Homo sapiens: one gene and its partners. The protein of the gene in region 1 purifies or fractionates together with the protein of each later gene. This does not show direct contact. Each region holds a gene or a part of one and is shown on either strand. Other genes may lie near its edges. The genes, in order: ZNF418, GPCPD1, PTPN4, ZYG11A, UNC13B, TBC1D14 and MIDN.

Region 1 (4,888 bases):
CACACACCAACGTTGCACATCACATTGGCCTTTCATTTTCGGCCTTATGCCACAATGTGGCTGACAGAATTCAGAGTATGCTTGGCAAATTCAAACAGGATCCAATATTACCACAGAATTCTCATGGCTCCCAATAGCAATGCAGTCCCAAGTCATTCTATGAAGGCCTTCTTGCATGGCTCCACATCCCCACAGAACCAGGTGGGGCTTTAGATATCCATGGCCCTATTCCACTTCTGTGTTGCACTTGGTGACCCCTCTACAATGACGACTTTCCTCTGTCCACCTAGAGTCATTTAAATCCCACTCCCTTGTTATGGAGAATGGTCTAAGAAAAGTGGAAAACAAAAGAAAAAAATAAATAAAATCCCAGCCCATCAGCTGTCCACCCCAGGCCCAATGTCTGTCACAGATAACCAAATTTACCCTGAGCATGTATCCACCAGGCCGAATGAAAACCCCCAAGCACCAACAAAGTTTTCTCAAAATCTTGGTGAGTCCACAGAGTGGTGAATAAGTACCAGCCTTGGCCCAAGTGTCATCTTCCTTCAATTATTTCTATGCTTCTGCTTACATCTCTTATCTATTCTACCCTTGGAAAGCCTATGCCCCCTGACAAACCATGTTGTCTGACATACCCTATCTTCATGAGCCCTTGCCTCCTTCTCCTGTGGCAATGTCAGCCAGGGACCCAAGCAAGAAATTCAGCCCTCAGCCTGCAACCACCCCTTCCTGGCCCCCACAAAAGATTTACCATGAAAATTTGAAGTGTGTCAATGTCATAATGGAGGCTAAACTATCTCAGACTCTTAACATGGTCAAAACAACATTCTTCACATCCCCAATGAATATTATACCTACTATGTGCTCATCTCAGTTGATGCAGCTTCCATCACTGCAGATGCTAAGACCAAAAACCTGGTGGTCATACCTGATTCCCCTTTCATGCCCTCACAGTCTATTAGAAAATCTAGTTACCGACCGGGCTTGGTGGCTCACGCCTGTAATCCCAGCACTTTGGGAGGCCGAGACGGGTAGATCACGAGGTCAGGAGATCAAGACCATCTGGCTAACACGGTGAAACCCCATCTCTACTAAAAATATTAAAAATTAGCCGGGCATGGCCGGGCTTGGTGGCTCATGCCTGTAATCCCAGCACTTTGGGAGGCCGAGGCCGATGGATCACGAGGTCAGGAGATTGAGACTATCCTGGCTAACACAGTGAAACCGTCTCTACTAAAAAATCCAAAAAATTAGCTGAGCATGGTGACGGGCGCCTGTAGTCCCAGCTACTCGGGAGGTTGAGGCAGGAGAATGGCGTGAACCCGGGAGGCAGAGCTTGCAATGAGCCAAGATCGTGCCACTGCACTCCAGCCTGGGCGATAGAGCGAGACTCCCGCTCAAAAAAAAAAGGAAAATCTAGTTGCCATTTTACAAACTGTGAATCTTGAATCCAGCCACAGCTCCTTACTCATTAATATGGTCCAGTAACCCTCACCTGCATTATGGCAGGAGTTTAAACTCTGATCCTCCTTCCTCCTCCCTCAAACACAGTGTGTTCTCTTCTTTGCAGCCAGATGATGCCTGCAGACAAATGGGACTGTGGTAACATCACCTCCTCGCCGCCCTCTTGCCTCCCCACCGAATTTTTACCTCTAAGCATTTCATGACCTGGTACCAACTCTGTAGTTAACCTTCAAAGTATGTTTACATGGGTTGACAGAAATGGGAATACCTCCATACATCCTGTGTCATGGACTTAGGATTCTGGGTTTAGGGTTTCTCCAGTGTTCTCAGATCAAAGGACTGAAAAAATGGCAAGTAAGAGTCCCAGGACATCACAAGCTAGAGAACATGTGAATGGGGAATAAGGCCAGTGAGGGAATGGAACACCCTCTAATTCCCTCTGTGGGTTCCTTTTTTTGAGCCAGAGTTTCGCTCTTGTTGCCCAGGCCGGAGTGCAATGGCTCACCGCAACCTCTGCCTCCCGAGTTCAAGCAATTCTCCTGCCTTAGCCTCTGAGTAGCTGGGATTACAGTCATGCGGCATCACCACGCCTGGCTAATTTTGTATTTTTGTTAGAGACGGGGTTTCTCCATGTTGGTCAGGCTGGTCTCGAACTCCCGACCTCAGGTGATCCGCCCGCCTCGGCCTCCCAAAGTGCTGGGATTACAGGTGGGAGCCACCTTGCCCGACCCCCTCAGTGGGTTCTTTACGTGCTTTTGTAGCCAGGAGTGTCTGAGGGGAAAGCAGACGTTACAAAGGGGATCTGATAAGCTCAGGTCTCCTTGAACCTTTTCTTATCGCTGGAGCCAGGTGACCTCAGACTGGTTGACCTGCGTGTCTCAGTGCAAAATGTCATCTCTACCACCTATGTGATCTATCAACAAAGGAGTCAACCTCCCAGAACCCTAAGGTCCTCATCTCCTCTACTATGTTCTTCCTTTGGCCTTTGGGAAACCTTAAAAGCCTGGACTTGGATCGCATCCCTCCTTTCTTCGAAACTCTCCATGGCTTCTAGCGTCTTCACAGCGAATACACAGCCCCCAGCCTGCTCTTCCAGGAGAAGCTTCGCCTCACACGTTGTTCCCTACAGGCGCCTGTGGACCCCAGGTTCCATCCTCCCGGGTCTGTCCTCCAGGCCATAGCCCGCGCCGGTCCCTGTGCCTGTCGCTCTCCCCACCGCATCCCACAGGTGTCAGAAACAAGGACCTCTCCCGCGAACGCCTCAGTGTCCCGACGCCGGGTCCGGGCTGCAGACCTGTGAACAGTCGCCGCTCTCTCGCTGCTTCAGGATTCGGGTTAGGATGAGGTGACCTGAGGGCAGGGAAGGCACAATTACCTGAGCCGGGAGCCTCAGCGCGGCCGCCGCCATCCCGAGTACGCGGGGAAAGCACTGCCGGGAGCGGCGGGCGCCGTTACGGGGCCTAAGATCTGCCTCTGTGCAGCAAGAAGGACTCTTCACCTTCTGGGTTCAGACACCGCGGTTCGGACCCATAGCTCCAGCGCCTCTCACCTCACAAACCGCAGAAACACACCCAACATTAACCAAAATGGTCGCTACCAGAGAACGCTGAGAATCCCGCCACTACGTTACGTGCGCACACAGAAACGCCTTTATTCTGAGCCCTTACTGGTTCTGTTGCGCTGTCATTCAATGTAGAGCTTTCTGGGTAATGTAGTTCCCCAGGTTCCAAGGTAGTAAAGCTGCCGCTTCCCAAAGGCGCTTCTGCAGGGAAGTCCCAGCCCTACCTCAGGGGGTTCATTAAAGCGCGTACCCTTTTAGGGCAGAGGATGGTCTCGCCCCTCCTTAGAGGCCATATTGAGATTCCTGGGGAATCCCTGTTTGTAACTGACCACCTAAGTGTTTGCAAAAATATTAATTCACATTTCTGTAAATTCAAGCTCCCAGGCGCTAAAAATACTGTGAAGGCCCCCAAAGGCTACAAATCCAAATTCGTGTATCACTTTATACAATCGTTTAGACACAGAATGCTTGCACTGGAAGCAGAGGCTGATAAACATTACTCTGTTATAATTCACATGAATGCACTCTTGTTACCGGATAGAATGTCTTGGCTGTGAGTTGTCCAGTTGTTGGCGCATTGAACAAAGAAGTGAACAAAACACACAAAAAAAGCAACGAAAGAACGGACCAATGAAAGCGCAGATTTATTGAGGGGAAAGTACACTCCACAGAAGTGGAATGTAGGTGTGGGAGCAGGCGACCAAGCGGCTCAAGAACCCCGATTACAATGTTTTTTAGGGTTTTATTAGGTTGGTGCAAAAGTAATTGCGGTTTTTGCCATGAATAAGCTAGAATTTTATAATACCCCAAGAGTTCTTTAAAGGCCTCCAATCCTATGAAGGACTGGTGCACAACCAATCAGAGGCTGAAGTGGAGACTTCTGTCTTGTTACCACAGGAGTGAGGACGTGGCCTGTGTGCTGCCTCATCTTGCCTAGAACTAGCTGCACCTGCTGTTCTTTTGCTTATGCCTTCATTCTTGGTTACCCTAATTCCCTATTCTCCTGCCTCACTCTGAGGCATTAGAGTTGGTTTTTCAGTCTGCCAGGGACAAAAGAGAACTAATCCAGATAGGACCATGCCAAGGAAGATAGAGGAGAGGCTAAAGAAAGAGTACAAAGGTCAATCAGTCGTTCCCATGGAAAAACAACTCTCCTGCTTATATAGTCAATTATTGTGTCCAATTCATTCAGCAAAACATTTATTCATGTAATATCCCTTACTTGGTATTCTAACTTATATTTTCAACTCATTTTAGGAACTTGAAGTCAGTCTCAGGTAAAGAACAATGAAAGAGAAATCTCAGCTTGGTATTGGTAATGGTGGTGATAATCTCCACCTGGAGACACTAGGCGTATGTTAAATTATCGAGCTTGTTATCTTTCCTGGGAAGTGATTATCATTTGTTTCTCTTGTGACAGCGGGGAGTGTTCTGCATGAGGAACTAATATGATACCAGAAAAACAGGTGAAATGCCAGTTACAGAAACTTATTACCAACGACTATCTAATAACTGCGATGACAGAAATAGGTCAATTGAAACATGAGTGGATGGTGAAAAAAATTTACACTTCACAGAAGTTTTTCTTTCTTTTTTTTTTTTTTTTTTTTTGAGACAAAGTCTCGTTCTGTCCCAGACTGGAGTGCAGTGGCGCCATCTTGGCTCACTGCAACCTCCACCTCCCGGGTTCAAGCGATTCTCCTGCCTCAGTCTCCCAAGTAGCTGGGATAACAGATGCCTGCCACCACGCCCAGCTAATTTTTGTATTTTTAGTAGAGACAAGGTTTCACCATGTTGGCCAGACTGGTCTCAAACTCTTGACCTCTGACCTGCCTGCCTCCTTCTCCCACAATGCTGACA
Region 2 (4,223 bases), on another chromosome or scaffold:
CTTGTGATCTAGCTTAAAGTATTTGCCCTCCAACTTGCCTTTTTTTAACAAATGGAAATCTATAAAAAACTGACTGCTCTGACTTCAAAGTCACTAAAGATCGAGATAAGAAGACTGCTTACCAGCGTGGGAACTACTCTAAAGCTGCTCAATAACGTCAGACACGTCCAGAGTGGAGAACTCTGAAAGAGCCTCTGGTGACCTGACACTGGCACTACCCATCAGCAGAGAAAAGATGGCCTCCTGTGCCTGAATGTGACAGCCAGGCAACTATGTAAGGCAGTATCAGAGAATCTTTATGACATCACAGTAGGAAAGAATTTTTTCAACACGATAAAAAATATGGTGACTCTAATAAATATCTGACTGTATTAAAACAAAGAGTTTCTATTAATTATTAAAGACATATCTAAGAGAATGAAAAATGACCTCTGGGTCAAGGTATCAAGACAGAACAGAAGCATCTAACTTCGTTCTCTCCCTATATTCCATTAAAAATAAAACAAAGATTCTTTTCAATAAAATCCGTAAGTAAGAGAAAAACCCAAGAGACAAAGCTACAACATTTTGAAAGCTGGAAAACAGATGGATAAATAAGAACTGAAAGTTTGTCAGTGAGAGAACTGAAAAGGCTGGCTCCCAGGCCAGTGGTAGGAAACAAGAGCAGAGTTAAAAGCAGGAGCAGATCGATGTAAGACGGCGGACTGTCAAACCAGAAACCACCCCTACTCCTAATCCCCCTGTGAAGAGGAGAAAACAGAATCTAATCAGGAGGTTGCTAACCCAGAACACTATATTAAACATCCTCTACAGAACAGATGGGCACTCTGGTTTTTTTAAAAAAGATAAAAGCAAAACTTGACAAGCAAACCTGCCGCTGATCTCTAAGTTTGATCCTGTTGACTTTTGGGCTCTGTACAACCATATCCAGTTGTCTAGTAATTTAATGTCTGGCTGTGACTACTCACTTTTTAAGGATGGTGTTGAGCCCATGTGGGAAGATGAGAAAAACAAACAGGGAGGATGATGGCTAATTTACATTGAACAAACAGCAGAGATGAAGGGACCTCAATCACTTTTGGCTAGAGACTCTACTGTGTCTTATTGGAGAATCTTTTGATGACTCAGTGATGATATATGTGCAGCTGTTCTTAATGTTAGAGCTAAAGGTGATAAGATAGCAGTATGGACTACTGAATGTGAAAACAGAGAAGCTGTTACACATATAGAGAGGGTATACAAGGAAAGGTTAGGACTTCCTCCAAACATCGTGATTGGTTATCAGTCCCATGCAGACACAGCTACTAAAAACAGCTCCACCACTAAAAATAGGTTTGTTGTTTAAGAAGACACCTTCTGAGTATTCTTCTGAGTATTCTCATAAGAGACCAAGTCAAGCAATCGAGATTTTGGAGCTGAATCAAAGCCTCTTCAAAAACTACTAGAGTGGACTGGATTTAAATTTAATTTCCATCCAAATGTTGCTAAGATGTAAGAGAAGTCTCATTCACTGAGGTGGGAGGACTGGAACTCAGGAGGTCAAGGGAGCAGTGAGCTGAGATTGTGCCACTGCACTCCAACCTGGGCAGCAGAGTGAGAGAGAACCTGCCTCAAAAAAAAAAAAAAAAAAAAAAATCCTTAATGACTTCAGGGAAATAGCATGTTCATTAAATGAGAATAGGATGCTAAATATATGGAAAAAAATGCATTCAGAGAAAAAAAGATAGTTCTTGGAAATTAAAGACACAATAGCAGACATGAAAAACTCAACAGAGGCCAGGCACGGTGGCTCACACCAGTAATCCCAGCACTTTGGGAGGACAAGAAAGGCAAATTGCCTGAGCTCAGGAGTTCAAGACCAGCCTGGGCAACATGGCGAAACCCTGTCTCTACTAAAATACAAAAAATTAGCCAGGCATGGTGGCGTGCGCCTGTAGGCCCAGCTACTTGGGAGACTGAGGCATGAGAATTTGCTTGAACCCAGTAGACAGAGGTTGCAGTGAGCCCAGATCGCACCACTGAACCCCAGCCTGGATGATAGAGTGAGACTATCTCAAAAAAAAAACAAACAAAGCAAACAAACAAAAAACATAAAAGCTCAACAGAATGAGTAGAAAGTAAGATTGAGAAAACCTTTCAAATGAAGCAAAAAAAAAAAAAAAAAGACAAAATAGGAGGAAAAAAAAATCAAAAATCTGGTCCAAGAGCTATTTGATTCAAACAAAAAGACTTCTATAAAGAAAAAAATCAAGAAAATTGAAAGGGTCAAAAATCAAAAGAATTATTTTTGAAAAAATTTTCCTGTGTTTAAGAACATGTATTGACAGACTAAAAGGGTTACCAAGTGTCCAGCAAAGTGGGCAAAGCCAGACCCACAAGAAAACACATCTCTATAGAATTCCCAAACTCTGGTAATAAAAGGAAGACCCTCAAAGCTTCCAAACAGGAAACACAGATTACATGTGTGAGAACATAATCAAGGTGGCTTCACACTGAGCAACAACACTGGAATGGTAAAGATGATGGAGAATGTTTCTAAAATTCTAAAGTATTTCTAACATAGAGTTCTATACACAGCCATGATATTTCTGGACATATAAAACCTCAAAAACATTTACCTCCTGTGTCCACCTTTCTTAAGAAGATGCTGAAAGACATGTCCCATAAAACTCATTGAACCAAGAGAGGAAAAGATATGAGCTACAGGAAACAGGAGATCTAACACAGAGAATGGCAGGGCACAGGATGACAGCTGTGCACAATCAACCAATCAGTACTGGAGCAGCCCGGTGGAGAGGCAGACGTATTGAGGGCTATTACTCCGAGAGAGACACTGTCACTCTAGCAGCTATGTTAACCTAAGAACAGAGTGCCCTCATGAGCCTGAACTGGCATATTACTTAAATATGGTCTAACCATGTGCTGATTAAGTTTCCACATTACCTGCAGGATTATAATGCTTTGGCCTACTCCTGAGAACTGGTAACAGGCTACAGTGAGTGTAGAACCAGGAAATACAGGACAGCCCACTCCTGCTATACCTCCTATGCCTGACCCACAGGCAGATGTGCTGAGCTAGAGACCTAGCGGGTCACACAAACAGTTCGGAAAGTTAAGACTAGCATTTAAGCGCACACACACAAAGAAGTACACGCATGAACAGGAAGTATCTAAAGGACACTTGGAATTGTTTCAGGTGCATACTTGTAAATATACCTTATCTGTGTACTGGGTTGCCGCATAAAATAAGCTGGGTGCAAAAAGGTTTGAAAGTCATTGTACTATCAATAATGTTCACAGCAACACTATAAAATAGCAATTACTTGGCAGCAACCTAAATGTTCCTAAATAGCAGTCTAAGTTGTGGTAAAGACAACAATGGAATATTAACAAGACCACGAAAAGGAGTAAGGTATAGCTACATGCAACAATATGTTAATTTTAAGAACATAATTACAAGTTTTATGAAGTATATTTAAAGCTTGAAACTATACAAAACTACAGCTGGGGCAGGAGAATCACTTGAACCCAGGAGCTGGAGGGTAAGGCAGGAGAATCACTTGAACCCAGGTTGCAGTGAGCCGAGACAGTGCCACTGCACTCCAGCCTGGGTGACAAAGACTCTGTCTCAAAAAAATAAAAAGAACGGCCTCTTACTCATCATCCTAAGTGCAAATTTTCCAAACAAAATACCAGAAAATGATATGTAGCAGTTGAGTGTTTGATAATTGAAAACACACTCACACACTCTCACCACACCTCTCTCCAATCCAAAATGCCTCAAAGGCTCCAAGTCACTAATCATTCAAAACCTTCTATGTGATATCTAAATTTGATAATGGAAAAAATAGCATAAGCAGATTATTTAGAAATAGAGGTAACTGCCAGAAGAGCCAAATAAAGATTTGAGGGGACACGGTCTCAGCCAGAGACAATGGAAGAAATAGGTACAAGAAATTATTGGTATTTTATTATAAGACTTATCAAACTATTTGAATTTTAAAACTATATACACATGCTTTTTTGAATAAAATTAAAAAAAAATGTTGAGGGTAAAAACCAACTCAACATAACCCACCTTTCCCCTCCTCAGACCCTATTAGGAATCCAGTGCCTGGCCACCTCCCTGAAACCCTCAACAGTCATGCCCTGATTTACACTCTTGCCTCTGCCTAGAACACAAATCTTGTCAAAGTAAACATAACCACTCCCCAAATTCCAAC
Region 3 (3,462 bases), on another chromosome or scaffold:
TTCAAATGTCATTAGAATTATGGCTTGATTCTAAGGATACTCTATTTGTTTTAAAGTCTACACGGGATTGAAAAGAAAGGGAAGAGTATTACACTTCATTGTACAAAATGTAATTTTAGAAGAAAAACATTTTCATTATAAACAAGAGCAATCATTGAAGCATTTTCAGATATAATGTACATTCTTTTTCATTTTGCTTTGCCTCTAGAATAGAAACTTTTCAGAAAATTTGCACATACTGTTTGTAAGTATAAAATAATTGAATTCTAGACTTTTGGAGTGTGGAAGGGTGTTTGTGTGTGAAGGTAATAAATGTGTTGCTGCATGTGTTTACCATAGAGAACGTTGCCAGGCTTTGTCAAATGAGGACATTGTTGTGAGGGTGTGACTTTTGTGAAGCCAGAAAACTGTGCCTAAGATTCATTACAGTGAGTATGTGCAGAGGCCCCTGACCCAGTAAATGCTTTTTGCCTTTTTATTCCCAATGTCTTGGACAGTTGAGACAACTTGGCCCAACTCTGAATTGTAGCAGTGATGTCTTATATGCTTACGAGTTTATATTAATTCAGCTGAACAAGAACTACATCTTAAACCACCTTTGTAGGTATGATTAATACGTGCAACAGCTGCTTTAAAAGGTGGTATTTATTATTCATCACTCATGAAACTTGACTCAGTGAGGACTTCATTATTTTTATTTCTCTTTCCACGTCTCCAACTTTTTAAAAATCACTAATTTAACTCTTTGTTAAGTACTCAAGTACAAAGTGATCTCTTCTTTCATGAACTTTGCTATAACTGTTGAAAGGATTGGTGTCAGGCTCTCTCAACCCTGGGAGTTTCCAAAATTTAGCAAATATTACTTGTGATAAGCTTAAATGCCACATCGCTAAGTACAATTATTACCAGGAATCCGTCAAGGGGGAGATAGCCCCGCTCACACCCTTAGACCCAAACAGGTGCTGGTTCATGCTTTCTCCACAAATTGGCAGTTGGGTACTTCCCCACTGTCATCACAGTTGAGCTCATTTTAACATATATTCAAAGAAGCTTTTTAGTTTCTACTCCTGAATTGTAGTGTTCAAGTTATTTGCCTTCCTGGGTAAGAAAATTTTAACCCAAGTCTGGGATTCTCTGGCACCTGTCTTTTCCCATCTTTTAATGAGTTGGCAAGATTAGGTCAAATTTCAATGCTAAATTTGATTTTTTGAATTTTAAATAGTTGCACTTTATTTCATGCTGACCACCAACTTAATTTATACATTTTAAAATAAAATTATCCTAGAAGTGTTGTAAACGTGGGAAAATTTTAATTAGTGTTGGAGGTCATTAGATTGGACCCAGGTTTAAATATAATGATCTCTTCACAGCTTATTTGATGTTTAAGAGCAACTTGTGTGATCTTAGCTTTGCAGGTTTTCTGTAATTTATGTAGCACAATAAAGGATAACCAGTTGACTGTGTTACTGGACTCTGAGTTCTCACAGCTAGTTTCATCTAAGCTTGGTTTATTATCATTTCTGCTTTGGATTTTTTTGTGCATCACATGAATACTTAGAAATCCATTTGTTTTCAGTGTAGTACCTAGGGTGAAGTAGATGCTGCACAAGTAAGTTTAAGGGAATAAAAGTCCCGACACTTTATATACATGTTGAGGGGCACGATTTAAGAGACTGAAACAGTTTACATTAAACTGTTTTTATTTTCTGCCAGTAGACTCTATCTGCTTAAAAAAATAAAAATTGTTCAACCCAGTGTTCTCCAGCATCAGGACATTACAGTTGTAATCTATGTTGTAATCTTTTCAAATAAGAAAAGCTACTCCTTATTCTCTACAGTGTAGGCTTAATTTTAGAACCGATAATTTACTATATCTGCATTATTGATATTTTTAAGTAGTAGTTTTAAAAATAATTATTTCTATGTGGAGGGTGTTTTAATTTGGGATTTTTTTTTTCTTGTAACAGGTGCTATTTGTAAATATGAAGGGGAAAAGTCACTTAGTTAAAAGTCTAGCTTATGTCATAATTAAGATACAATTATTCATTTCATGTTTGATTCTATTAAACTAGTGGCAAAACAGAATTGGTCCCTTAGTTTTTTAGATTACCTTTCCCCCTATATCACAAAAATATCTCTTTCCATATGATCTCATAATTGAGGCAAAGAAGCTAAGGGTTTATTTAAAATGTGTATAAGCTTGAATTTGGTCAACACTGCATAATTTGAAATCACTCTGCATTTGTCACTGCAGCTTACTGTATGCTTGAAAGGCCTTGTGTGTTTGTCTTAATTTTAGTGAAAAAATTAGAATTTCTGCCATTCATGTACAAAAAAATTACAACTACAGCAAACAAGATAAAAATGCTGGTTTGCATTAATACTGTTTTAGTCTTAAGAGCAATTTATATTATGTGAAATGCTGTTACACATATTTTGTTGGCCATATTTCATTTTGAGAAACAGTTGTTCAGGTACAAACATGACAAACAACTCTAGCTATGACTCTTAATGTTCAATTGCAAAATAAAGATGTGCTTTAGTAATCTAAAGTACAGAAGTTTTGAAGATTATTTTATGGGAGTTTTTCATGGGCTTTTCTAACAGTGGTTATATTTAGTAACTGGTTATCAGGAATGGAGAGAATGACAAGTGTAAAATTTATTTCTGGAGTTATTGACTCACATAGTGGCTGTATTTGAGGAAAGGGAGTAGGTGAGGAACTAAAAGGGATTTAGAAGATTAAATAGTGTCTGAAGAGGCCGGGCGCGGTGGCTCACGCCTGTAATCCCAGCATTTTGGGAGGCTGAGGCGGGCAGATCACAAGGTCAGGAGATCGAGATCATCCTGGCCAACATGGAGAAACCCCGTCTCTACTAAAAATACAAAAATTAGCTGAGGGTGGTGGCGCACGCCTGTAGTCCCAGCTACTTAGGAGGCTGAGGCAGGAGGATCACTTGAACCTGGGAGGTGGAGGTTGCAGTGAGCCGAGATTGATTGCGCCACTGCACCCCAGCCTGGTGACAAAGTGAAACTCCATCTCAAAAAAAAAAAAAAAAAACAGTGAAGAGAAGATTCTGTTTAATTGTGGCCATTGCTTGGCTCCTGTCCTCTCCCAGTACCAACCCTCTATTCTGGTAATCCTAAGGTAAGACCTTGTCAAGCAAAATAAAGGACCTCTCCTTCTATCCCTGAAGTCAGCTTGCCTAAGTGCAGTTAGATATGCTGTTTTTCCTCTGAAAGAAAAGAAGTACCTAGAGAACAGGTAATAAATAAAGCAGAAAGGTGATTTTTGATTATGCCATGCCTTTGTTCTTATGTACATAATAAAAATTCAAACACTGTAATGAAGATCAAAATGATTTTTAACATCCTCTTCCTCATGCTCCACCCTAAGAAAAGCCCTCTCAAACCAGCGGCAACCTCTATTCAATTTCTGGTATTTTCTTCTGGGGTAAAAAT
Region 4 (3,500 bases), on another chromosome or scaffold:
TTTACATTTGTGTTCTAGGTCTTCCACAGTGTAGCTTCAAGTTACCTAATGTTTTGTTTTACCATTTTTCAAATTCTTCTCCTCTGTTGGTGGATTTATCCCATCCTTTTTTTCCACTTTCTGTTTTTCTTTATCACTTTCTTTCCCCTAGGAATACCCTGTCCATTCTGCCCCTACATTTATCTCCTCCTGTGTAAATCCTGAGACTCTGCCTAAATGTGCTCTCTCAATGAGTTCTTCTGATTCTCTCCCAGAAATGGCCACTCTTTCCATAACTACCTCAGATGTCACTTCATTGATGCGTCTTTTATGGTGCTTTTCTTCAATTTTATTTTTTGGCATTTCTCACAGTGTTATTACTGTCACAAGGCTTTATGCTAACGAGTAGCTCTCACTCATGTTTGTGTCCCCTGCAGTACCTGTCACAGTAGCTTGTATGGAGTGAGGCTCAATAAATGATTCTGAAGTTAATTTCACAGATAAAGAAATAGAGGTCTAGAGAAAGGAAGTGACTTGGCCAAAGTCACACAGATAGTTAGTGACTCCATTTGGATTAGAAGGCTTTGCTGTAATACTTTGATGTTCTAAAGAATAAATGCTTAGGATAGGGAAAATCTGTTCCTGTCCCAATAAACGAAGATTTGTGCCAATCAAAACATGCACAAGACAGCATAGAGAATGTTACTGGCATCATATGCACTAAAAACAAGTTCATCTTCAGCTTGTGGCTATAGGAATGAGGAATCACCCATTGGATTTGCGAGTGCAGTTCACAGCCAGTGCTTGCGCTCTCAACCTAACACGCCAGGGCCTGGCCAAGGGGATGCCTGTTCGCCTGTTGTCAGAGGTCACCTGTCTACTTTTCAAGGCTCTGAAAAATTTCCCCCATTACCAGCAGGTAATTTCAATTGAATATTTGTTTGTGCTTTTTTTGTTGTTGTTAATAGTCTCAGCTCTGTTGCCCAGGCCAGAGTGCCGTGGCACAATTTGTTTTTGTTTTTTTAAAGACAGAGTCTCTCTCTGTCGCCCAGGCTGGAGTGCGGTGGCACGATCTCAGCTCACTGTAACCTCTGCCTCCCGGGTTCAAGCAATTCTCCTGCTTCAGCCTCCTGAGTAGCTGGGATTACAGGCGTGCACCACGACGCCCAGCTAATTTTTGTATTTTTAGTAGAGACGGGGTTTCACCATGTTGGTCAGGCTGGTCTCGAACTCCTGGCCTCATGAGCCATGGCATACGGCAGACAATTTGTGTTTTCTAACTTTAGGATAAATATGTGAAAAATAGATATTATTTAGTTCTGGTTTTTCATCCTATTAGAGAAAGAGAATAGATAAAAGAGTGTGTTTGTTATAGAAAAAATAGGAAATATAGATAAGCAGTGAGGCTAAAATTTTCTTTTTTTTGAGAGATTTTCCTTCTTGTTGCCCAGGGTGGAGTGCAGTGGTATGATCTCGGCTCACCGCAACCTCCGCCTCCTGGGTTCGTGCCATTCTCCTACCTCAGCCTCCCGAGTATCTTAGACTACAGGCGCTCGCCACCATGCCTGGCTAATTTTTTTTTTTTTTGTATTTTTAGTAGAGATGGGTTTCACCGTGTTAGCCAGGATGGTCTCGATCTCCTGACCTCATGATCTGCCCACCTTGGTGTCCCAAAATTCTGGGATTACAGACGTGAGCCCCCGCGCCTGGCCTACACTCATTTTTATTTTTATTATTTTTTTTGAGACGGAGTCATTCTGTTGCCGAGGCTAGAGTGCAGTAGCACGATCTTGGCTCACTGCAACCTCTGCCTCCTGCCTCAGCCTCCTGAGTAGCTGGGATTACAGGCGCATGCCACCATGCCTGGTTGATTTTGTATTTTTAGTATAGATGTGGTTTCACCATGTTGGCCAGGGTGGTCTCGAACTCCTGAACTCAGGTGATCCACTGCCTTGGCCTCCCAAAGTGCTGGGATTACAGGAGGGAGCCACCATGCCTGGCTCCCTCCCCCACAACACACATTTTTAAAATGAAAAGGTAGATGATAGACTGGGAAACATGTTCATTATATATATATGAGAATCAACTTCATTCAGAGTATATAAAGAACTCAACTTGTTAATACAGTACAAATCAGTTATAAAAATGATCAAAAGATTTGAACACTTTGGTAGTTTCTTTAGGAATTAAATATACACTTCATAAACTACCTAGTCATTCCACTCCTAGGTATTTACTGAAGATAAATGAAAGCATGTATCCATATAAAGATATTTACACAAATATTCATGGTACCTTTATTTATTGCCAAAAACTTGAAACATCCCAAATGTCCAACAACAGGCGAATAGAAGCATTGTAATAAATCTATTTAGGGAAACACTACTTGGCACACAGAGATGAAGTACTGATATCTGCAGTGTAGATGAAACTCAAAAATGTTATATGTTGAGCAAAACAGGCCAAACTCAAAAGAGCAGAAGTACATGATTCCATTTGCATAACACCTTAAAAAAACTAATCTATAATGACTGTAATTTTCCGAGGATAGGGTTTACAGGGTTGAGACTAACTTGAAGAGGGGACAATGGAACTCTCTGGGGGTGATAGAAGTATTATATCTTGATTGTAGGAGTGGTTACACAGGGGTATAAATTTGTGAAATCTAATACAAATGTGTACTTTGTAAAGGGAGTTTTTTTTTTTTTTTTTTTTTTGAGATGGAGTCTCGCTCTGTCGCCCAGGCTGGAGTGCAGTGGCACAATCTTGGCTCACTGCAAGCTCCGCCTCCCGGGTTCATGCCATTCTCCTGCCTCAGCCTCCCGAGTAGCTGGGACTACAGGCACCCACCACCACGCCCGGCTAATTTTTTGTATTTTTAGTAGAGACGGGGTTTCACTGTGCTAGCCAGGTTGGTCTCGATCTCCTGACCTCGTGATCCGCCTGCCTCTGCCTCCCAAAGTGCTGGGATTACAGGCATGAGCCACCGCACCCGGCCAAGGGAGTTGATTTTTTAAAAATACAGTTAGGAAGGTGGTTTTCCTCATTTATTTCTACCTTATTTTTAAAGTTGGAAAATCCTACTCAAGTCTTCATTCCTGCATGGCAGTCATCAGTTACAGCATTAAATGAAAATTTAATGCTGGTACACAAATGAGCTCTCAATAAGAAAAGCTCACTAGTAATACTTCCAAATACATGGAATCTTTGTTTAGAATGGAATGTTACATTTGTTCAAAATTATTTTTCTTTATTCTCTAAAAGTTACAGAAGAATTGTCTTCTCTCCTTAACCAATTCCAGGATTCTTGTGGATGTTCCATTTGACAGGCAAGTATAAGACTTGGTCATTTGACTGGGGTGTTGGCCTTTGGTTATTAAATGCAGAGGCCTGATTAAGGCTGGGATAAGGTGTTTGGAGAGAAGGTTCTGTTGAGCATCTTCCACAGAGAAGTGATTAGAAGTACCCTACTAGAAAATGTTGTCTCCTAAAGTGATTCTAGTATAGGATAGTGGGTAAGA
Region 5 (4,223 bases), on another chromosome or scaffold:
TCCTACAAGATATAAGTGCCTAAGGCCCAAGGAAGCATCCTAGCCTATCATGTAGTTGTAGTTAATATATACCACCAACTACTTACTACCTCTTCCTGCCCTCCTTTCTCCATTTCACATTATACAAGGCAGAGCAAACCAGAGTGAGTAAATATCGGGGGCCCAGCTTTTGCTTTAAGCAGGAAGCTCCTTGTTCCAGTAAATGAATTACATTTGGCAGAGAGAGAAGGGGAGGATGAAAATACCCACACACTGAGTTCTTGTTATTTAACCCCTAATTAACATGAAGCTCGGGTACTAGGAAAGACACAAGAAGGATAAAAAGCAAGCTATGATTAATCTACCACTAAGTCACTTGCATCATAAATGGTCAATTCCTTAAAGCCATTTATGATGCTTGAGTTAAGAACAGGCCTTTTGTTGGTCATGGGCTCCTTGATGTCATTCAGAGTGACTGGCTGCTGTACATTCAAATCAGAGTCAGTACTGGCAGGTACTGCCTCCTCTTCTTGTTTTTCTAGCTGGTGAAATATCTCAGAGACAGTGGAGGGTTCTTCCTCATGTTTCCCTGAAGGACAGGCGGGGCTAGACAGGTTGGCTTTGGTATCCCAGTGTTCTCCAGATGCTGAGATTTCCTGCTGGTTTCCCCCTTCTCCAGACCCTGAAAGCCCCTGAGCACAGACCTCTGGACTGGCCACCAGCTGCTCAGAGGTCCCAGAGGGCTGAGTGTAGACTTTACCTGGCTGAGCACTGGCCCCAGATATTTGAGAAGACTTCAAAGCTTTGTTAGCCTCACTGGAGTTAAGGTCCTGATCACTGCTAGTAACTAAAACTGGAGGGGAGGATTCTGTAGGCATTTGTTCAGGGACCCCTTTGTTCTCTTTTGGCCATGGAAATGAAAGATCTACCTTTCCAAATCCTAGTTTTGAATCACTTGCTAATACACTCCCTTTCCCCTCACTACTTCCCTCAAATAGAGTTGACAACTTCTTAAAACTGGACATTAAACCAGTCTCTGCTGCTCTATTGCCAGAGGGGAGAGGTGAGGAAAAGAAAGAGCTCAGTGGTTTCCCATGGTTAGTAGCAGAGGATGGCAAACGAAGCTTTGGCCAAGTGGTCACATTTGGGATCTCAAAACGTGGTCTTGACTGCTCTGTTTCCTGGGGTACTACAGGTGGATCTTTCTGGGCATGAATTATCTCACAACTTTCTCTGGCAGCAAGCACAGGGTCCTCCAGCAGAGGATGAGAAAAGTGCCCTTCGGTTTCCAGAGTGGTGCTCTGGCTCACACTTGCATCATTGAACAGCATAGTATCAGTTTCTAGTGAACTGGCTGGATGCAGCTCCAGTAAGTCTTGGTTTGTGGAGGCAGTTTGAATAGCTGGCTCTGGCTCAAGAGGAAGAGGTGGCTGAATGGGAGGAGGAAGCTCTTCGGCAATGCAGGTAGGATCTGGATGCAACTGTGCTGGCAGCGCAAAGTTCTCTGCTTCTAACGATGCCTCCGTGTCTGTAGCTTGCAATATCCCCATGTCTCCTTCATCACTCAGAGACAATACTCCTTGCCCAGTATCATCACCCGAGAAAGAAGATGTATTAATTGTTTCAGAACGTTGAGGTTCCAGAATATTTTCAGGAGTATTATTGTCTTCCATTTTGGTTGTTAGTTTAGGATCATCTGTCAAGATATCTGATTCTGGCTTTGCACTAACCACAGTCATTCTACAGTCACTGAGAGTAGATTCTGAACTTAGTGCTGTAAAGGCAGCTTCTCTCCTTTCTGGAGGTACTGATCCTACAGCATCTCTGGAACAACCATTTTGAAGCCATGAAGTAGCTGGGAGAGATGATTCTTGTTTGTATGGCTCTGGCTTGGGACTTTTGAAAATTCCAAATAATTCACCTTTGAGGGGCTGAGATGATACATCAGAAGCAAGAGAGAAAAAGGAGTTTTTCTTTGGAGATTTAGGAGAGGAGAAAAGTCCAGAGAGTGTTTTGGGAGGTTCAATTAAGCTCCCAGAGAAAGATTTCACTTTGGTCACAAACCCTGAAAGCATGTCTACTGAAGAGCCTAATGCAAATTTGTCTTCCTCTTTATCTGCATCTTGGTTCTGAAGGTTCCCTGCACACCCTGGCTCTGGAGAGGAAGAGGCTGGCTCTAGGATCTGTGGTAAGACCTCATCGGGGGCCTTTTCTAATGGCAAGTTCACTGGGTCAGTAGTAAATTTCTCATTTTGGTGGCAGTTAGTACAAGTGTCTAAATCATTGAATTTTTCAATTAACTGTTTAGCATGTGAAAAAGAGTTGGACAGTGAGTCACTGGGGAAGGCTTTGTGGTTGAAAGCCTCTTCTTCATGGGGAGCTATCCCAAGGTTCTCTGGGCCAGTGAGGAATGTTTCAGCCTGTGCCTGAAATTCTGGTGAAGGAGGAATAATGTCTTTTTGCAATTCATTCATCTGGAAATCCACTGATGTCCCTGGTACAATATTGGAACTCAGTTTTTCCTGACAGTCCTTGTCTACACTGAGCTCATCTGCAAGGGAGGTAACCTCAATGGTGTTGTTAATGGAAATACAAGGTGCCATTTGCTGTTCATGAACTACTTCTTGGGCTATGCTATCTCTATGACCACTGGAACTTTCTCTGGTCATTGTGCTACCACTCTCTACAAAAACATTTGTCTTCTTACAGGGCTGGGAGGTCACTGGAACAACAGTTGAAATGCTTTGTTTTTCCCCAGAGGTCTCCTTTTTTTGATCCAAAAAGGACAAGCTGAAGAAACTAAAAGTAGAACTACTATGAGAGGCATCCTTCTTAATGCTTGAGCTAGCAGTGGAAAAAAATGAAGGAAGTGTGAATAGCCCTTCTGCCTGAGATTTGGCTCTTGGTAGAGTAGCAGAGGCTCTGTTCTCAGATTTTTCAGATCCAGTGAGAAAAGAAAATATACTCTTTTTGGTTGATAACTCTGGTTGAGATGAAGATGTTGCAGCCATAGAGAAACTCCAGTCTTTGTCAGAAAAATGATCTTGTTCATTTGAATTTCTCTTGCTCAGGGTATCAAAGGATATTTCATTACTTTTTGAAACTTCTGTCACTGTAGTCACACCACTAGTTTCTACTGAAGACTCCCTGGAAGACTCTTTGAGACTACTTGTTGAAAAAGATGAATTAGGTGACTGCTGGATTAGATGGTCTCTGAATGGTACCTCTTTTTCAGTCAAATCATTACCCTGGATCCCTCTAGTTGATTCCTCTAACCTACTGTCATCGATAGTAGTCTGTTTGTTCAGTCTTCTAACTCTAGCCTTCCCTTTAGAGGAAATTGGTGCAGCAGGAAAGTTCCCAGCACCCTGGCTAGCTAGCTCCATAGGAGTAGGACTTGACCTGACCTCATCCTTAATAGTCATTGAAGAAACAGACGTATTTTCAGTTGTCTGTATAGGAGATACATTGGCTTTAAAGAAATCCCCAAGGGTACCCCAAAAATTTGAAACACCAGAAGATTCTTTCTTTTCTTGAGGTGGTATCTTGACATTTGTATCACCAATCTTTTCTAAGTTTGGTGATCCTTCTTTATTCACCTGAGTCTTAAAAAGATTCAAAAATCCAGATGACTGTTTTTCATTTGCTGTCATACTAACTGACGATTCTTCTTGACTGAAGAGTTTCAATGAACTTTTAAATAATGTTTTATCAGACTCTTTGGATGACTGGCCCTGGGGAAGCTCATAATTCTCACGCTCATCCCCACTATGCTGAGGTGCAGGAGAAACTGAAATAGAGTCTGTTGTAATGATTTCATCATCTTTTACACCTGATTTAGCCTGAGGAGTTGTTTGGCTTACCTGGAAACCAGATTTTAACAAACTTTGCTTTTTCACATGGTTGTTTTTATTTAAAGAGAATTCTTGCCTTATATTTTTGATCAATTCTGGATGCTGAACATTGGATACTATCTGTCTTTCTGAATCCTTAAGAAGACTTTTTTCCACATTTGGGGAGTTACCCTCTAATTGCTTACTCATGATTAATGACTGAAAGCCATCATTTGTGAGCTCTGCTAAATCTGACTGCTGATTCACTTTCTGCATGGCCAAAGCCTCTAAGGATTCACTCTTATCAAACTTCAAAGTACTACCAACTGAGGCACCCAAAACAGAAAATACTGAAGCCACTTTGTTCACTAATGATGTCTCTTCTGCTTGTTGTGAGCCTTTAGTCATATT
Region 6 (3,500 bases), on another chromosome or scaffold:
TTTGAATTTTATATCCACTTTAATTTCCATGTTTGTGTTTTTTCTAGTTTCTCCTTGGACCAAGATGACTGATGGAAAACTCTCCACCTCTACAAATGGCGTAGCCTTCATGGGTATTCTGGATGGTCGACCAGGAAACCCCCTTCAGAACCTGCAACACGTCAATCTCAAGGCGCCCCGACTCCTCTCCGCGCCTGAGTACGGGCCCAAGCTGAAACTCAGGGCTTTAGAAGACCGGCACAGCCTCCAGTCCGTGGACTCGGGGATTCCTACCCTGGAGATCGGGAACCCGGAGCCTGTACCCTGCAGCGCGGTCCACGTGAGGAGGAAGCAGTCCGACTCCGACCTCATCCCCGAGCGGGCCTTCCAGAGCGCCTGCGCGCTGCCATCCTGTGCGCCACCAGCTCCTAGCAGCACCGAGCGGGAACAGAGCGTGCGCAAATCCTCCACGTTTCCCAGGACAGGCTATGACTCGGTAAAGCTCTATAGCCCGACCTCCAAAGCCCTGACCCGCAGCGATGATGTCTCCGTCTGCAGCGTGTCCAGTCTTGGGACAGAGCTGTCCACCACGCTGTCCGTCAGCAATGAGGACATCTTGGACCTTGTGGTCACGAGCAGCTCCAGTGCCATTGTGACCCTGGAGAATGACGATGACCCACAGTTTACCAACGTCACCTTGAGCTCTATCAAGGAAACCCGTGGCTTACACCAGCAGGACTGTGTTCATGAAGCTGAGGAGGGGAGTAAATTGAAAATATTGGGGCCATTTAGTAACTTCTTTGCAAGGTAATGCCATCTTTGCCCTCTAGAAGATCGTGGTGGTTGAGTCCAGACCAGTCTCCTTGTTCCTGTCTCAAATGTGTTGTGTGTTCTCTGTGGTGTTAGGCAGGCACTGTCTCACACAGATAATTGGGTCTTTTCCCAGAAGCCCGGAATCCTGTGGGATTGTGAGAACTGGTCTGTTGGGGATTCTGTTCTTCGGTGTCCCTGGCTCATTTGCAGTCTGTTGTCACATCTCTGCCTCTGACCTGCTGTGGCTGTCCCACAGGTGGCCAGTGTTACCAAATCAGCAGCCTGAGCCTCTGCGGGGCCCTGTGCACTCATAACTTAACGTTTCTTGGGCCAAGCAGAGGGCACTGGTGAGGGTGACGCCAGTGAGTAACTCTCATTTCTACTGCCAGCCCCTGCTGGCATAGTGCAGTGCTGGCATGCCGGGTGTTCCAGCCGTGTCCCCGTGCCCCTGGATGGCTGTGCTCTCGTGTGCCTGTCCTGGCCCTGCCTCTGCTGTGGAGGTGTGTGCTCTGCTGCACTGCAGCCCCATGCATTCCCAACGTGCTGGGCCTGGCCATGCACTCCGTCCCCATGGGGCCTTGTCACCTGAGTGCTGGAGTTCCTGTGTCTCCCTGAAGCCCTGGGGGGGCCGCGCCTTCAGCTTCTGCCTCTCGTTTGTGCTCTCATGCTTTTGTTCAACAAGTGCCTATTTCCTAGGCCCTGTTCTAGGCTGGTCATGTGGGGTAATACGGTGAGAGAAACGATGTTGGGTCATGACTTAGGGTGGGCTTGTGGCCTGGGGGTGGTGGGAGTGGACACCTTCGTCACACAAGCAAATGTGAACTCCCGAACGGTGGCGTGCTGGGAGGAAGGGCACAGGGGCTGTGGAGAGTACGTGTAGAATTGAGATCTGTGGCTGGGTGCAGTGGGTCACTCCTGTAATCTCAACACTTTGGGAGGCTGAGGTGGGTGGAGCACCTGAGGTCCGGAGTTCGAGACCAGTCTGGCCAACATGGCAAAACCCCGTCTCTACTAAAAATACAAAAATTAGCCAGGTATGGTGGTGCACGCCTGTATTCCCAGCTACTTGGGAGGAGGAGGCAGAGGTTGCGGTGAGCCGAGATCGCGCCACCGCACTCCAGCCTGGGCGACAGAATGAGACTCCATCTCAAAAAAACAAACAAACAAAAAAAGAATCGTGATCTGCTCCATAGCTGCTCTTTGGAGGGCTCTGGGGCCGGGGCTTGGCAGGTGGGAACATTTCTGCAGTTGACCCTGGCTGCCCCGTGTGTGTGTCTCTAGCAGAACCCACGTCAGACATTGCAGTACCGGGTGTCCCTTTGAGATGGTGTGGTGTGCCGGCTGGAGTCAGCTGGCGACTCTGACTGTGGCCAACACATTACCACTGCCTTAGTTGCTTCATCAACTAAAGGGGATCATCTCGGACCAGCCTAAGGCCAGTCCTGAGTGAGATGATCTGTGGTGTGGTCTGTGGTTTTGTCGGGAAACTTTCTTCTCGAATGTGCTGACAGATAGGTATCTTGGTACCATGAGCACAGTTCCTGGTCTCAGAATGCAGTAACTCAGCGATTGCCCTCAGTGGGAGGAACCTGGGAACTTTGGGGGAGATCTTGTCACTATCCCTTCTGAGGCTGTAGCCATATCGCGGTGTTGCTGTGGTTAGATTTGTGTGGCGGAACTTCCCCGTGCTCAGACGAGTGTGTTCAACTGTCCCTGCTTATGAACAACACCTGGTACCCGTTCCACGCGGACCTCAGGATCCATCCAGACATACAGAATCAGAAGCTCAGCGAGAAGGGCCTGAGGATGGGTTTTCAGAAATGTGGGAAACCTTGCTTGAAATGGGTTTGGCCGGGAAACAGCATGGTGGAAGGAGTGTGGCTTTGGAATTCAACCGACCTGTGCCATGTCCAGCTCTGTGCCCTTGAACAAGTTCCTTCACCTCCCAGTCAGTTTTCTCACCCCTAGAACCGTGCGCGGAGGAGCGTGGCCCGTGTGCCCATTATGCTGTTGACGAACGCCACACGCTCACCTTTGTCCTCGCACGTTCTGTCTCCGCTGCCTCACCTGAGAAGTGGGGATAATGAGCCCTTCCTTCCGTGGCAGTGGGGATTAAAATGGGTTAGCATGTGAGAAATTTAATGCAGATCCAGACACGTAGTAAACTTTTAAGTATGAGTTGCTTGTGGCGATCATGGCCACGTTGCTCTTTCTGCCGCCGTTGTGATTCAGCTGACTGAGCTGTGTATATTGGATTCTCTTCCCCTTTGAAAGGAAGCATCGTTGGTTATGCAATTTCTAGATCATTTCTAAAGCTACCGTTTCTTGGAAGTCATACTCAGCTTTGTGCTGCAGGAAACAAGTGTCTCTTCTTTTATTCCTTGGTTCCTTATCCTCGTTGTGATGGCTGTGACATTGTTATTGTGAGCCTCTCTGAACTACCTTTGGGAAGATAATGGAATATAATGAAAAATGACTTAAAACAAGTGATGACATGGGCAGAGTCTAGGGTTCTTTTGTCCTAGAGTCTTAAAAATGTTAGAGAAGAGTTTCCATGTAGAGTTCCTTTGAGGGGAAAGGGTTTCTGTGCCAGAATCTTTAGAGCTCACTAAACATTTTACAGGTGAGTAAATGGAGTTACAGTGAATGTTCATCAATTCAGCCCAGGGCCTGGCCCACAGCAGGTACCCAGAGGACTGTGGGCATCG
Region 7 (4,891 bases), about 57 Mb from region 1:
CCTGAGTGTGGGGTCGGAATCCTGGGCTGGAATAGGGGGTGGAGAGGGCCCTGCTGGCTGGCGGGGTGGGGGCCCCAGGTAGTGTGTGTGCGGACAGGTACCGAGGGAGGGGCTACTGCCTGTGTGCGGGGGCCTCTGGGGGCACGCAGCCCCATGGCCATTTACCATGAGGCCCGCTTCCACGGTGGGTACCAAGGTCAGCTTGCTGCCATCACCCACGCCGAACTCCTGCAGCTTCCCCGAACTGAGCCGGCTGGGGGGAGGAAGGAAGAGCATGAGACTCCGCGGAGACGACACAGGGACGCGGAAGCAGAGGCCGCGGGGGAGGGCTGTGCTTGTGTGGGGAGAGACGGATAAGTTCCCACCCCCACCCCTTCCCGGCTTCCAGATCCAGGGCCCTAAGCGCGTGCAGAGAGGTCTCCGTCTGGTGCTGGGAGCCCCATCCTGGCGATTCGGACCCCTTCCCTCCAGTGGAACCCCCGCCCTGGACTCTGGCACCCCCTCTGCACCCCAACCAGGCACTTTCTCCTCCTCTGGGCCCCAGTGTGCTCTATGCCACCTTCCCCCACGACCCCAGGGCAGCCCCTGCCCCCAATTCCCTAATTCTAGTCCTGGCTCCTCTTTGTAGGAACCACGGGTTTCGGCCCGAGGAGAGGCCCTGGGGGTTGCGCCGGGCCGGGCTCCCCCTCCTCCTCCCTCCCCGGCGCAGGCGGCCGCCGCCGCGCAGACAAAGGAGACCCTCCCCCTCCGCCCCTCCCCCGATGGGCCCCTCCACTGGGATGGACACTGCGTGTCCCCGGAGGCCCGCGGGGGGAGGGCTCCGGGCCTGCAGGCGATTTAAATACCAGGGGGGAGGGGAGGCTGCGGGGAGCGCTCGGAGGCGAGAACAAAGGGGGGGAGAGAGACGCAAGTGGGGGGAGACAGCCAGACGCAGAGGAGGCCGCCGAGCAGATGCGGAAGCCGGCGCGGACGCAGGCGGGAGGGGGCGGTGGCGGCCCCCACACCCGCAGCCGGGACCCCCGCAACGCCCTGGGATTCCTGCCCGCCCCCAAGGGGGGCCGCCGAAGCCCGGCCCGGGACGCCCTCGCAGCCGCCTTTGTGCGGCGACCCCGGGCGGGGGAGGGGGCCGAGGCAGGCGAGGCCGAGCAGAGGGCGCCCGAGAGCGCGCGGCGCGCCCCCGCCCCCTGTCTGGCCGCCCCCTGCCTTCCCCGCGCGGCGCGCTCTTTGTTCCCGCCCGGGGGCCGGGGCCCGAGGGGGCGGCCGGCCGGGGGCGCGCGGTACCTACGTGTCTTTGTGGAGAAGAGCCAGGCGCTCCTTGGGCACTTTGAGGCGCTGGGACAACCGCTTGCGCAGCCCCTCCACCGTCTCGTCGGGCGGCACGGCCAGGTCGTAGCGGGTGCCCGTGGTGCTGTGGATGGCGAGGCTCATGGGCGCCGCCTCGGCCGCCGGGCCCAGCTCGCAGGCGCCGCCGGGGGCCCCGCGCCGGCAGCTCCGGGCGCCGCCGGGCTGCGGCTCCATCCCCGGCGCGCGCTGGGGGGCTGGGGGCGGCGGGCGCCGCCAATCCTCGCCGCGCCTCCGGGACAGGGGCGAGAGGCTCCCCGGATGCCGGGTCCTCCGGGCACTCGGGGGCGCGGAGCAGCGCGCGTCCTCCTCGAGAAAGTCCCGGCCGCGGAATGCGAGACCGAAATCCAAAATCCGAGTGGCGCTCCGAGGTCGCTCCGGCTCCTGGGGGCGCCTTCCGGGGGTGGGGACGGCACTTGCTTCTCCTTCAAAGGGCGGCGGGCGCGACCGGGACGCGGCGCGGTTAAGGGTCCTGGGGAGGGGGCGCCGCTCGGCTGGTGGCGCTGGGTGCCGTCTGCCGCCCGGGTCGCGCTTCCTCGCGCGTCCCCTCCCTTAGCAACAGCCGTCGCCGCCGCTCGGAGGATCTGGGGGTGAAAGTAACAAGAAAAAAAAGTTATAATGTATCAACGTTCCAGGGGGCGGGGCCGCCGCCCCCTCCCATTCACTACTTACTCCGCCGGCCGGGCGCCGGCCAATCGCCGCGCGCCGAGCGCCCAGTCGGCCGCGAGCCCGGGCCTATGAGAGCCGCCGCGGCACCGCCCCACGTGGCAGCCGGGCCCGCCCCCTCGCCCCGCCCCCAGCGCCCAGGCGACCAAGGGGAGCGCAGCGGGGGCGGGGCTGGCGCCTCTCCGCGCCCGCCCCCGCCCCGCCCGCGCCCGCAGCCATTCATAAGCGCCCGGAGCCCGCAACAAAGGGCGGGCGCGCCCCGGGGGGCGCGGGACCCAGGTCTGGAGACGGGTCTGGTACCCCTCGCGATCCCAAGGGAGCGGCCGGGAGCGGGAGGGGGCGCGGGCCATTGTTCCCGGCGCCGGGAGGGGCAGGAAGTCGTGGGGCCACCCCGCCGCCTTCGTCCGGGAAAAGCCGCGAGCGGAAGCGGGAGCGCGAAGTCCGCGCCTCGTGGCCGGGGTCCCGGGGCGGGCGGGCGACGGTGAGGCTAGGGCCGCGGCCCCGGGGAGGGCGTGGTGCGTGGGGGCGGAGTTGTGGCCGGGGCGGGGCGCCCGCACCTCGGTGACGTGGCCGGGTGGCTGCCGCCGGGGGCCCCGCGCGCCCACCCGCCGGCCGCGGGCAGAACCCGTTTCCCCGAGGCGCGCCCGCTCGAGCCGTGACGTGACGCGGCGTCCCCGGCTGCGCCCGCGCGCGCTCGGGGATGCGGTGAGTCAGCAGCTCGGGCGCGCCCTCTGCCGGGCCCGCCTGGGAGCGCCGCCCGGAGTCCCGGGGAGGGGGCGCCGCGCTGCCCCTGGCAGGGGAGGAAGACGACTGGGCTGCGCGCGGGGGAGGAACCCCGATCGGGAACGAAAGACTGTAGTCGGGAGACTGGGACCGTGTGGCTGGGCAACGGAGGGCGGAACGGCAACCAGTTCAAGGTCACCCGCGGTGAAGGGGGAGTGCCCCGGGGGGCGGGGCGGGGGCTGAGGTCCGGCCAGGGCGGCGCTGGCTGCGCGGAGCCCCTCCCACCCCGCACCCCGGGGGGCTTCCCAGGACCGGAGGCTCCCCGATCCCTCCTGTCCCAAGAACAAAGAAAAGTGCGGGCATCCTGAGCCATCTAGAGTGGGCACCCTTCCTCGGCCCGCAGGTCCCCCCCCTCCACACTCACCGGGCGCGGCCGGTTCTGCGCTCCAAGTGCTGCGAGTACCTTCGTCCGGGGCCGAATGCGCGCTGGCCGGGCCGGTCTGGGCCAAGCGCGCGGCCCTCAGCCTTTATCCGCGCCGCCTTCCCTCGGGGTGGAGTTAGGGCGGGCAGGGGGGCGGGGGGCCGGGCGGGCGGTGACGCAGACTGGCCCCCGCCCCTGCCTGCCGGCCCTGGCCCTGGGGCGCCTTGACGGCTGGGCCACCCGGGACCCAGGCTTGGCGCAGTTCATGGGGGGACTCCCCTTGAATGCCCCGAGCCAAGGGTCTCGGCCCGCCTCGCCGCGGGCTGAGATGCACCCCGAATCGTCAGCGGGACAGGGTTTTGGGGTGTACAGCGCGACTCGCTGCCCCGCCCCCTTCCTGTCGCCCCAGGCCCGGTGCTTCCGCCTGGGGGCGCCCGCGTGGGGGGGACGGGAAGAGGGGCCTGAGTCAGCGGCTGTCGTCCAGGAAAACAGGCTGGAGTCACCTGCCGTAGAGTGGGGGTGCCCTGGCCAGCCCTGGCCTCCTGCATCTGTCAATGGTGACCTCAGAGGGCATTTATGGAGCGATTAGCCAGTGCCAGGCCTGCCTTGTGCCCAGCCAGTCACCAGCCGGCTATGCTGTGACCCCGGGAGGTAACTGGCCTCTCCAAGCCTCAGTTTCTCCAGGGTGGGTGGGAGTGTGGTGAGGGGATGCGGCAGGATCACTTTGGGGCCATCACCCCCCATTAATGCAGGACATGCACTGGTTCCCAGCCTTTGGGGTGGGCATTACCCCATTTTACAGATGAAGAAACTGAGGCCACAGCCAATGAGACACGAATGTGGTGTGCATCTCACCCTTCCCCGTCGGCTTTTTGAGGATGGTCCTGGTTGAGGTGGGCCCCGTCCTGCCCCTCTATTTAGAGAAGGGGACCCCATTCCTACGGGAGCACCTCCTGTCCACTCATCTGGCCCCTCCCTTTATCTGGCCTGACCACCTCCACCCCCACCCTGGCCATGGGCGCCCCTCCCAGGGCTGCGCTCCTCCCCAGGTCTCCTTCCGGCTGCCACCCATGCTCCCGGCAGCCGTGGCCCCCACCTTGACAGGCACACCCAGCCCCGAAGGGTCAGGGCTAGGCCAGAGAGGGAGAGGCTGGGATAACCCTTGGAAGGGGGTCACAGGGGCTGCGGTTTGAGGAATGACTAGGAGTTTGTCACATAAAAAAGATGATGCGGTCGGGCGCGGTGGCTCACGCCTGTAATCCCAGCACTTTGGGAGGCCGAGGCGGGCGGATCACAAGGTCAAGAGATTGAGACCAGCCTGGCCAACATGGTGAAACCCTGTCTCTACTAAAAATACAAAAATTAGCTGGGCATGGTGGCATGTGTCTGTAGTCCCAGCTACTCAGGAGGCTGAGGCAGGAGAATCGCTTGAACGCGGGAGGCGGAGGTTACAATAAACCCAGATCGTGCCAGGGCACTCCAGCCTGAGCGACAAAACGAGATTCCGTCTCAAAAAAAAAAAAAAAAAAAAAAAAGGCCGGGCGCGGTGGCTCATGCCTGTAATCCTGGCACTTTGGGAGGCCGAGGCGGGCGGATCACGAGGTCAGGAGTTCGAGACCAGCCTGATCAACATGGTGAAACCCTGTCTGTACTAAAAACACAAAAATTAGCCAGGCGTGGTGATGTGCGCCTGTAATCTCAGCTACTTGGGAGGCTGAGGCGGGAGCATTGCTCGAACCC

The links.
Region 2: the proteins of ZNF418 (region 1) and GPCPD1 purify together in Homo sapiens (affinity purification with mass spectrometry; one large-scale study listed by BioGRID and IntAct). This does not show direct contact.
Region 3: the proteins of ZNF418 (region 1) and PTPN4 purify together in Homo sapiens (affinity purification with mass spectrometry; one large-scale study listed by BioGRID and IntAct). This does not show direct contact.
Region 4: the proteins of ZNF418 (region 1) and ZYG11A purify together in Homo sapiens (affinity purification with mass spectrometry; one large-scale study listed by BioGRID and IntAct). This does not show direct contact.
Region 5: the proteins of ZNF418 (region 1) and UNC13B purify together in Homo sapiens (affinity purification with mass spectrometry; one large-scale study listed by BioGRID and IntAct). This does not show direct contact.
Region 6: the proteins of ZNF418 (region 1) and TBC1D14 purify together in Homo sapiens (affinity purification with mass spectrometry; one large-scale study listed by BioGRID and IntAct). This does not show direct contact.
Region 7: the proteins of ZNF418 (region 1) and MIDN purify together in Homo sapiens (affinity purification with mass spectrometry; one large-scale study listed by BioGRID and IntAct). This does not show direct contact.

Annotation. Positions count from the first base shown.
Region 1 is NC_000019.10:57,932,319-57,937,206, forward strand, and holds the start of ZNF418 (zinc finger protein 418), read right to left. Parts: upstream 3,085-4,888; 5' UTR 2,876-3,084; coding exon of another isoform or gene 2,843-2,875; intron 2,818-2,842; exon of another isoform or gene 1,736-2,817; intron 1,585-1,735; 5' UTR 1,505-1,584; coding exon 1,499-1,504; intron 329-1,498; exon of another isoform or gene 178-328; coding exon of another isoform or gene 112-177; intron 1-111. UniProt on the Homo sapiens protein: Transcriptional repressor. May play a role as regulator of the ubiquitin-proteasome system and autophagy-lysosomal pathway.
Region 2 is NC_000020.11:5,548,137-5,552,359, forward strand, and holds part of GPCPD1 (glycerophosphocholine phosphodiesterase GPCPD1), read right to left. Parts: intron 1-4,223. UniProt on the Homo sapiens protein: May be involved in the negative regulation of skeletal muscle differentiation, independently of its glycerophosphocholine phosphodiesterase activity.
Region 3 is NC_000002.12:119,982,348-119,985,809, forward strand, and holds the end of PTPN4 (tyrosine-protein phosphatase non-receptor type 4), read left to right. Parts: 3' UTR 1-2,552; downstream 2,553-3,462. UniProt on the Homo sapiens protein: Phosphatase that plays a role in immunity, learning, synaptic plasticity or cell homeostasis. Regulates neuronal cell homeostasis by protecting neurons against apoptosis.
Region 4 is NC_000001.11:52,863,260-52,866,759, forward strand, and holds part of ZYG11A (protein zyg-11 homolog A), read left to right. Parts: intron 1-721; coding exon 722-898; intron 899-3,243; coding exon 3,244-3,308; intron 3,309-3,500. UniProt on the Homo sapiens protein: Probably acts as a target recruitment subunit in an E3 ubiquitin ligase complex ZYGA-CUL2-elongin BC.
Region 5 is NC_000009.12:35,304,604-35,308,826, reverse strand, and holds part of UNC13B (protein unc-13 homolog B), read right to left. Parts: coding exon 415-4,223; intron 1-414. UniProt on the Homo sapiens protein: Plays a role in vesicle maturation during exocytosis as a target of the diacylglycerol second messenger pathway.
Region 6 is NC_000004.12:6,923,326-6,926,825, forward strand, and holds part of TBC1D14 (TBC1 domain family member 14), read left to right. Parts: intron 1-47; 5' UTR 48-64; coding exon 65-786; intron 787-3,500. UniProt on the Homo sapiens protein: Plays a role in the regulation of starvation-induced autophagosome formation.
Region 7 is NC_000019.10:1,246,924-1,251,814, reverse strand, and holds the start of MIDN (midnolin), read right to left. Parts: upstream 3,233-4,891; 5' UTR 3,155-3,232; intron 1,928-3,154; exon of another isoform or gene 1,926-1,927; 5' UTR 1,519-1,925; coding exon 1,286-1,518; intron 254-1,285; coding exon 166-253; intron 1-165. UniProt on the Homo sapiens protein: Facilitates the ubiquitin-independent proteasomal degradation of stimulus-induced transcription factors such as FOSB, EGR1, NR4A1, and IRF4 to the proteasome for degradation. Promotes also the degradation of other substrates such as CBX4.